Linked DNA regions of Homo sapiens. The protein of the gene in region 1 interacts with the protein of each later gene in a biochemical or structural test. Each region holds a gene or a part of one and is shown on either strand. Other genes may lie near its edges. The genes, in order: CEACAM5 and CD1D.

Evidence for each region.
Region 2: the proteins of CEACAM5 (region 1) and CD1D form a complex in vitro, tested with the Homo sapiens proteins (one large-scale study listed by IntAct).

Annotation. Positions count from the first base shown.
Region 1 is NC_000019.10:41,707,026-41,711,615, reverse strand, and holds the start of CEACAM5 (cell adhesion molecule CEACAM5 isoform 1 preproprotein), read right to left. Parts: upstream 2,991-4,590; 5' UTR 2,885-2,990; coding exon 2,821-2,884; intron 1,937-2,820; coding exon 1,577-1,936; intron 1-1,576. UniProt on the Homo sapiens protein: Cell surface glycoprotein that plays a role in cell adhesion, intracellular signaling and tumor progression. Mediates homophilic and heterophilic cell adhesion with other carcinoembryonic antigen-related cell adhesion molecules, such as CEACAM6.
Region 2 is NC_000001.11:158,179,232-158,183,694, reverse strand, and holds the start of CD1D (antigen-presenting glycoprotein CD1d isoform 1 precursor), read right to left. Parts: upstream 2,801-4,463; 5' UTR 2,594-2,800; coding exon 2,533-2,593; intron 2,241-2,532; coding exon 1,974-2,240; intron 1,664-1,973; coding exon 1,385-1,663; coding exon of another isoform or gene 1,261-1,384; intron 818-1,260; coding exon 539-817; intron 1-538. UniProt on the Homo sapiens protein: Antigen-presenting protein that binds self and non-self glycolipids and presents them to T-cell receptors on natural killer T-cells.

The DNA.
Region 1 (4,590 bases):
AAAACCCTCCCATGGCCAAGGAACCCCAGAGTCACATGAGATAGGGTGGCTTTCGGGACAGGGGGTCAGAGGAATGGTACATGGATCTCAGCCCCTGATGGACACGGAACAGGTGTGGTCAGAACCTCCCAGGATTCTGCATCCAGGATCCAGTCTCTATAGAGGTTATGGATCATTCCTTCACTCATTCCCCCCTTCATGAGAGAGCTACTGAGCAAGCGTGTGTCTCACTTTGGGCCTCTGTTGGCACAGGGTGTGAGTGGGGAGAGAAAGCGAAGTCCTTTCCTTTATCCTTCCGTGGGAGTGACACTGACACATCGGGAAACACAGGATTTGAGGTCATGTGAGGGGGCTGTGGATCTCAGGGAGAGGCCTGGACAATCCCGGCACTGACCCTGACTGTTGAGGTGATCTAGTTCTAGAGTAAAACTGATTATTTCTCCATTTACTTATCACTCTCCAGACCAGAATCTCCGCTTCTGAGCTGTGGATGCCCAAGACAAAAGAACGCAAGCCCATGACTGGTCTCAGATGCAGATGCCTAACAACAAACAGCCCCACCCACCCCCAGTTGAGGAGAGGAGGGGGCTGTGGCTACAGACAGACCTCATGTGACTTCAATCTGACACCTATGGCCTGTGTGACCCTTGTTAGTGACTGTCTCCCTGTGCCTCAATTTCCTTTCAATAAGTAGGATAAGTGCTATTTGGCTGTGAGGTTGTTTGTGAATTAACCTCAAAATATTTACAATTACTTGATCTCAGCTCTGCACAGAGGAGCTGCTCAAATGAACATCATTTATGTTTATTTGCCTCCAAGAGAGAAGGCCCTGGGCCTGATCCCTGGTGGACAAGGAGCTGCCGGGAGCATCTTCTCTCCTCTGTTCCTCTTCCTGGGGACACTGAGCTTCCCATGGAGTCACCTATGTCCCCAGGGCAATGGACTGACACCCTAATAACCTTGTCTATCTATCCTCCCCACATTGAGTCTCAAGTAAAGGACAAGGCTCTGTCCTTGTCCAAATGAGACTCTGGGGACAGGGAACAAGTGTGGCCAGAAAGTCCGATTCTGCATCCAGAATCCAGCTCCAGGAGCCACAGCCCTTGGACAGCTGCTAAGTCCTTGCTTCCAGTTAGCCTTGCCCAGGAGGCCACAACACAGCCCTGGCACAGGCTCCCCTGAGTCACCTGGAACCAGGAGCCCTGGGGCTGAGCTTCTCTGTGAATATCCCAGGGGTCCCTCAGGCCAGGCTCTGATGCAGTTCTCCAGGGTCTTTCTCAGGGTCAGGTTTACGGGGAGGGCACGGGGTGCTTGGCTGAGACTGACCTCCCCCTGCTAAGTCCCCCACATCAGACTGTCCTTCCTCTGCAGTGAGTGTCTGCAGGGTCTGGATGCCGGAAAGGAATTCTGATCTGTTGAAGTTTGTCTCTTCTGTGTGTATCCTGCACTAAATGCCCAAACCCTAACATGGTGCGTAATGCAGAGGGGGCCACAGGCACAGCCCAGGCCTGATAATCCTGTGTGTGGGAAGTAGAACTGACCCCCAACACCCAGAGGTCATGGGGGAATCACTCACGGTATACCCGGAACTGGCCAGTTGCTTCTTCATTCACAAGATCTGACTTTATGACGTGTAGGGTGTAGAATCCTGTGTCATTCTGGATGATGTTCTGGATCAGCAGGGATGCATTGGGGTATATTATCTCTCGACCACTGTATGCGGGCCCTGGGGTAGCTTGTTGAGTTCCTATTACATATCCTATAATTTGACGGTTGCCATCCACTCTTTCACCTTTGTACCAGCTGTAGCCAAAAAGATGCTGGGGCAGATTGTGGACAAGTAGAAGCACCTCCTTCCCCTCTGCGACATTGAACGGCGTGGATTCAATAGTGAGCTTGGCAGTGGTGGGCGGGTTCCAGAAGGTTAGAAGTGAGGCTAGGAGAGAGCAGAGAGCATCGGTCAATATTGGGACCTATGCATTAGGGTGGAAAAATGGGGTCCTGGGTCCTGAGCAGGTCTCTTCATCCCCCAGCCCTGGAGTGAGTGAGTGTGTGTGTGTGTGTGTGTGTGTGTGTGTCCTACTAGGTCAAGGTCAGCAGTGTGTCTCCTATTTCCTTAGCACCTCTGACCTTGGCATTTCCCTGTGTGGAATCTGCTTTTCCAGGGGTCTTCACGGCTCCCTCCCCATTGCCTTCAGGTCCTGCTCACATCAGGGCATTCTTGGGAGATCCCTTCCCTGACACCTCCTCTAGAGACCCTGGGTCTTCCTTTTCTGACCTTTCCCTGCTCTATTCCCTCCAGGGCTCTTGTCAACACCTGACCTCACATTCTAGATCTCTTTGTATGTCTGTCTTCCTCCCCATGAGAGCATGAGCTTCATGAGGGCAGGGATTTGTGTGATCTTGGTTGCACCCCAGTGCCTGGGACAGGCTGCAGATTCCTGTGGATGAGTTCATGAGGGTTCCCAGGGCCCTCCACAGCCTGGGGCTTATTTTCCAATGTCCGCGGTAGGCGGATGAGGACAGTGTTTCATGCCCTGGTTATGTTTTTATTTAAAGTGTCATCTGATGCAGTTATTATGATTTTTAAAAACGTAGTGGCCAGTGACAATTAACTAGGAAAATAGAACTCTTGAGGTTTTCCTGCCCCTTTCCAATTCCAGTTCAATTTGATTTTTCTGGTGTGACTCCTGTCCCTCTCTGATGTCCTCTTCCCTATTCAGGCTCCAACAGGAGCCCTCTGTCCGTCTCACAGCCCTGTCCTACCCAGGAGACCCCAGCTCCCTCCTCCCACCCTCTCCCAGGTTGTCCTCCCTTCACCTGTGAGCAGGAGCCTCTGCCAGGGGATGCACCATCTGTGGGGAGGGGCCGAGGGAGACTCCATGGTCTCTGCTGTCTGCTCTGTCCTCCTCTGTGGAGAAGAGCTTGAGTTCCAGGAACGTTTTGTCAAGGCTGCTGTGACTGTCTGGTCTGCTGTCCTTCCTCCCTCTGCCCTGAGTCTCTTCCTAGGGCAGGAGTACTTCTCAGCATCACGTGGGTCATGGGTGTGGTCTTTATTCAGGTGTCCTCTGTCCCCTCCCCTCTCATTTCTGCCTCTTTTGTCCCTCCTCTTTTTTCCCTTCTATTTTCAGTTCCTCAGACAAATCTTTTCGGCAAGGTGGATGGACCCCCATCCCCTGGGAGGACAACCTGTCTTCCCCAGTGCTGACCTCTGCTGTGTTCTGTCCTTGGGTCTGTCACACCAGGGGGATTATTTTCCTTTGTGACAGAGAAACCCAGCAGGGTCCCGGGTCTCCCCATGCTCTCCAGGGCTCTGGGAAGGTGGGATGATGCCCAACAGGAAGGTGACAGAGGTGGCTCTGGGGGCTAGAAAAAGGCTCACTGGGTGGTGGCTGGGGAGGGACCAGCCCTCTGTCTCCAGTACCACCAACCCCGCCACTGACCCAGGGATGGAGACCCAGGCCCAGAGGTCTCAGGAGTCCCCAGATCCTGCATGTGGAGGGGGAGGTGTCTTGTGTGTCCTGGAAAGAGAGGACTGTGGTGGAGGGAGGTGGGTGACTCTGGGCTCTGCTGTCCTTGGGGAAGGCTCCAGGGGGACCCTCCCTCTCCGTGTCTGTTGGCTGAGCTGCGGCTCAGGGCCTGTCCATGTTCTCCCTGACAGTCCTGGGTGGTCTCTGTCCTCTGCGAGGCTGACTGTCCTGTGATCACCCCACCTTCCCCATGGTGGTACCAGGAGGGAGTCTGGAGTTGCACAGGGACCCCTGGCAGAACAGGGTCCTCATAGGACCCAGAAAGGAACAGAGCAGGTATGTGGGAGAGATCAGAAGGGTCTGTTGGAGCAAGGGATGGAAACCAGGCTCCACCTCCACTTCCTTAGCAAAGCCAGGTTCCTGTCCAGGGGAATCCGTTTCCTGAGTGATGTCTGTGTGCAATGTCACCCCCTGGAGGGCAAGAGGAGACCTCCGGCCTTGTCTGGAACTGCCCTAGGGATGCTGACCAGGGTCGACGTGGTGTGAGCTGACCCTGAACTCTGGATTAGGCTGCAGGGTCAGGCCGGAGGATCTATTCCCTGCAGGCCTCTGTCCTCCCTTCTGAAGCTCTGGGGGTTGAGGCCTCATTCCTGGGGCAGCCGCGGGCACTTGCTGGCCTCCTCCCATGCTGGTGCCAGTGCCCCTGTGTCCACATGGAACAGACTCTGACTGCTGGGGGCCACACGGAGGTGATATGCTTCTTTTTAGAGATCTCCCACACATTTAACCAGTATTTATGGAGCATCTGTTCCGTGTCAGGCACTGGGCTGGGCCCTGGGATTCCACAGAGAGCAGGACAGACGTGGTCCCTGTCACAGAGTTTTCCTGTAACCGGGAGACAGGCGCTCAGTGAACTTCATGGGACTGAGGAGTTAATGGTAATGACAGGGCTGTGAGGTGACAGCATAGGGGGCGTCGGAGCCTGTGAGAGACTGAGCTGTCCTGGAGATCACAGGGAGCTGCCCTGGGAGACGCCCTTTCAGCTGAGCCCGGGGAAGGAGGGGGTGTAGGGGACAGGAGCTGCCTGCAGAGGGCAGCCGACAGGCCTCAAGTGGGCGGC
Region 2 (4,463 bases), on another chromosome or scaffold:
TAGCAAGGCAGACCTGAATCTAAATCCAGCCCGTCCACTTTCTATGTGGCTCCGGGCAGTTAACCTATCTCCGCCTTCATTTCCTCATCTATATAACGAAAAGAGCAGTACTTGCTTCAAAGAAAACTGTGAATGATGAGATGAGATATTATATGCAGATTCATTGGCCCCTACACAGGGAGCACTCAACCAACCAAGCTATCTTTGCTAACCTGCCTTCCCAAAGGCCTGGCTCCCTTTAAGCCAAGGAATGAATCGTCCTGGGATTGTTTATTCGCTGCCTACTTCTGGATCCCTGAGTTTTGTAGTCTTGTTTCTTCTTGTATATAGAGAGCACTATTTCAATCCTTTTAGACTTTCAGGTCTTTATTTCCCTCCTTCCTGTGTCTGGAACCCCTCTCTCTATCCTTTTACTGGGGGCCTCATCTCTGAAACTCCTCTAACCTGGGTATATCAAGCCACATCCCACCCCAGTGCCTCCCTCTATGCCTGAGGACCACCTCCTGCCATTTCCAGCTTGGGCCCAGCTTTTTCTCACCCCAGTAGAGGACGATGTCCTGGCCCTCTAGACTGCTGTGCTTCACCCGACAGGACAGGCCAGCTGCCTCCCCAGCCACCACATCCAGGGTTGCTCGGAGATACCATGTCTCGTCAGCATTGGGCAGGATGTCCCCTGGCTGAGTGCCCTGCTGCTCCTGCTCACCCCGCATCCACTTCACCCATACAGGCTTTGGGTAGAATCCTGAGACATGGCACACCAGCAGCAGACGGCCAGGGCCAGGACTGGGGCCACGGGACAGCCAGGCCTTGGGCTTCACTGTATCCAACAAGGGAATGGGGGGGATCTTAAAGTGAAAACTCTGCATTAGAGGCTCCAGGCCTCATATCATCCTTTTTGACTTTCAGGTCTTTATTTCCCTCCTTCCTGTATGCCCCTGACATGTTCACTTCTGGAAATGAAGTCTCCCACAACTTTCAATCCATTTGTCCCACCTTCTTCAGGGAGCCTGCCCTGATACTCCTTCTTCTTCTCTGGTCCCAGCCTCCTATGAATGCCCCTTGTCTGTTCCCCTATAACACCCTTTGTTTTGAAGTAACATATGTAGCCTATTTCAAGCATTGCATTAATTAACATCCCCCTACCAAGCAGGGATCCTAACTAACTGCCTGACACCTTTCACCCCCAGTTGTTCATTAATTGAATTCATAGAACCCAAGAGGTGCTCAGTTGATGTCTGTGAAATGAATAAATACCCTCACCCCTTATCCAGCCCCTCCTGGGCCTTCCTCTTCTTTGAATGCTCAAAGGGATGAGAACCCTGGAATGGAAAAGCCCGTTTGGAGCCCTGAAGTGGAATGCAGGGAGTAAGGAAGGCAGGCTGACCTTGCTTCTTCAGTTCCGACTTCCCTGACTCAAGGAGGCCACTGACAAATTGGGGGCAGGTGCCATTAAGGAGCCACTGCACTGTTTCCCTCGTCCACTTGTCCTGGTTGAGCACTTGAATGGCCAAGTTTACCCAAAGTGGGGCCTCTTGGGTTGGCTCCCAAGAAGTTCCTTGGAAACTCAGGATATCTTTTCCTTGAAATGCTACATGGAAGAAGTTATTTGAGGCGTTCCCAGGGTGCACCTCACAGCCAGCGGACACCTGGAGCTCCAAGGGATCTGTGGAGAGGAATGGAGAAAGATCAAAGAAGGGTTTAAAAGACTGGGAGAGATGAAAGAGAAGAAATTGATGTGCAGGTTATAATGGGGACCCAGACTTCAGGGAAAGGAAAGTAAGTGACCTGGAGTAGGCAGGAACGAGGGACACTTTGAGGAGTCAAAGCCTGGGACATCTCCAGGTAGAAGGGAAATCAGAAGAGGGTGGACAGAGCAGAGAATCTCATCAGGTGGTGCCACAGTCTCCCAGTTGAGTTTCTGTGGCCATTCTCTCCCCTTGGGTACCGGCCCAGGATCCTATCCCTCAGCTCACAGGATAAGCGTAGCATTTTGGCGAATTCCTTCACGTCCCTGGTGAAGCTGCTTCGATAAACCCGAAATATATGCTGCAGCGTCTCCCACTGCTGGTCGCTGAACGTGCCCTGGGACCAAGGCTTCAGAGAGCGGACGGTGTCCGAGTCGTTGCTCCAGCTGTGCGTCTGCAGCTCCCCCAGCCACGCCAAGCCGTCGGTGCGCGTCCAGCTGCTATTGGCGAAGGACGAGATCTGGAGGCAGCGGAGGGGGAAAAGCCTTTGCGGGACTGGGAGAGAATGAAGATTGGAGGCGTGTAGCAAGTGGCCGGGAGAGCAGCCAGCATAAAGAGAAGGAAGAAAGAAACAAGAGGAGATGAGCTTCAGGAGGCGGCTGATGCCAGCGAACTCTGTGCCGCGCTGCCTCTCCCCGGAGCCAGGGAGCAGCGAGTTTTCTACCTAGATCGCGCCAGTGCGTCCCGGGTCTCACCAGTCCCCATCAGGCGTTGCCCTCCCCGTCCCTACCCAGCTCCCTCTCTCCGCCCTCCCGCGAGTGCACTCAAGCGCCCTCGTTCCACCCACCTTCAGCGCTTCCCCAAGCCTGGAGGAGCGCCCAGAGCAGCAGAAACAGCAGGCACCCCATATCGCCCGGCGTGGGGACCTCGCGGAGCGCCGCTGCGCGCCGCCCTCTGACCTGCGCACTCTTCTCCCCCGCCGCTCAGCTCACGTCCCTTTCCGCTGGGTGCCAGCCAATTCCCAAGCCCAGACCCCGGCAGCCCTCCTCGCTGGGCTTGCCGGCGGTTTGCTGCTTCTGCCGAAGGGCGCCCTCGCCCTTAGCTGTGCGAGCTGCAAAGAGGTCGGGGTCCCAGGAATCCTGGCGCCGCCGCTCACTTCAGTAGGTTTCACAACCGGCGTGTCTCAATTTCCTGTTTCAAAGGAGACTTTGGGTCAACGTGTGGGACGCTTTACAACCATTATTTATGTTTTGGAAGCAGGACATAAGGTTGTGTCTGTGTTACAATTCCAACCATGGTAAAAATGCAAAGGGAAAAAAGGATCAAAGTCCTTGCTTTAGCAGTACATGTCTCTAGGTGGAAAGACTATGAGTGATCTTAATTTGCTTTACATCTTTATGTTTTCCAAAATTTCTCAAGTGCAAGTACCACATTTACAATAAAGTAAACGCATGAAAATTAATTTCCTCAGTTGCACATTGAGAGAACTGGATTAGGTTGGCTACAATTCTTTACAACTGTCATATCCCAGGATTCCTCCACCTCAGTGTTCCCTAGCCTCTCTTTCCTCCTGTCATGGTCCTTGCTCTCCCCTCCCCGGCCTCTGCTCTGTCTTCCCTGTCTCCTTTTTGGGGACGCGCCCCCAGACTCTCTTCCTCCTCTCCGCCCTAGGCTCTGCCGGCATACCTTCTCCTCTGGCTCCTGACTCATTCACTTTCCAAATATGCGCCTCTGTCTTAAACAGTAAGTGTAAGATGACAGTGTGTACCTGGACAGCCAACTCGCCACTTCTCACACTGAAAATAAGAAAAAGTGACCAAAAATCGTGGTTCTAAGCCTTAGCTCACCTGGAGGAAAAGACTCCTCTTTGGCAACTCAGAACCTGGGCTGCAGCCTGACACCTCCCTCTCCCTCACTCTTTTTATCCAATCTATCTCCAACTCATCTCTATTTCACTTCTTTTTGAATACCTCTTGAATAAATTCCTTTTTCTATATTTCCACCGTCACCATCACCCTAACCTTTTGACTGATCTCCTGAAGTAGCATTCTTGGGTAGAAAACAAAATCATTAGCACGGCCTGCAAGATTATGCGCCCTCTAGCCCTGGTGTCTACCTTTTGACATCACCTCACACCCCAGCATCATTTGCTCTGTACTGTAGCCTGGCTGTTAGCTTTCAGTTCCTCCACTATGCAAAACCTCTTCCTGACTAAGGTCTCTGCACAAAGTTCCCTCTACATGAAAGCTCTTGACCTTCTCCTCACCTCACCCCCTCCCAATGCCTAGTTATTTCCACTAAGGTATCAGTTCCAAGGTCACTTTCTCAGGGAAGTCTTTCCAGATCTGCCAGACTGTGTGACCCTAGGCAGGAGAAGTAGGGCAGTCCCAACCTCCACTGCTTGTACACTAACTGGCTTTGAGAAGCCATCCTCTCAGCATGTAGCAGAGTTTATAATTATAGAAATGGCCATATGTCTGTCTCCCTCTGTGTCCTCTTCTAAATCAGCTGGAGAGGTGCCAGAAGGCAAGGATCATGTCTCCATAATCTGATTCCTCCCATTCTGCTAACGTTAATGTTTCCCTTCTCCCATATCCTGTTGCAGCAAGAGTCCTAGAGAAAATAGGCTACTGCACCACACTCTAGGCTGGGATCTTGTAGACAGCCCTAACCCAGCCTATCTAATTATGTGTAATTTGCCCAAAAAAGCTTAAAATAACATAGTAACGTGTTCTTGTAACAAATAAGGTGTTAAATTATTAAATTTGGATACAAAAT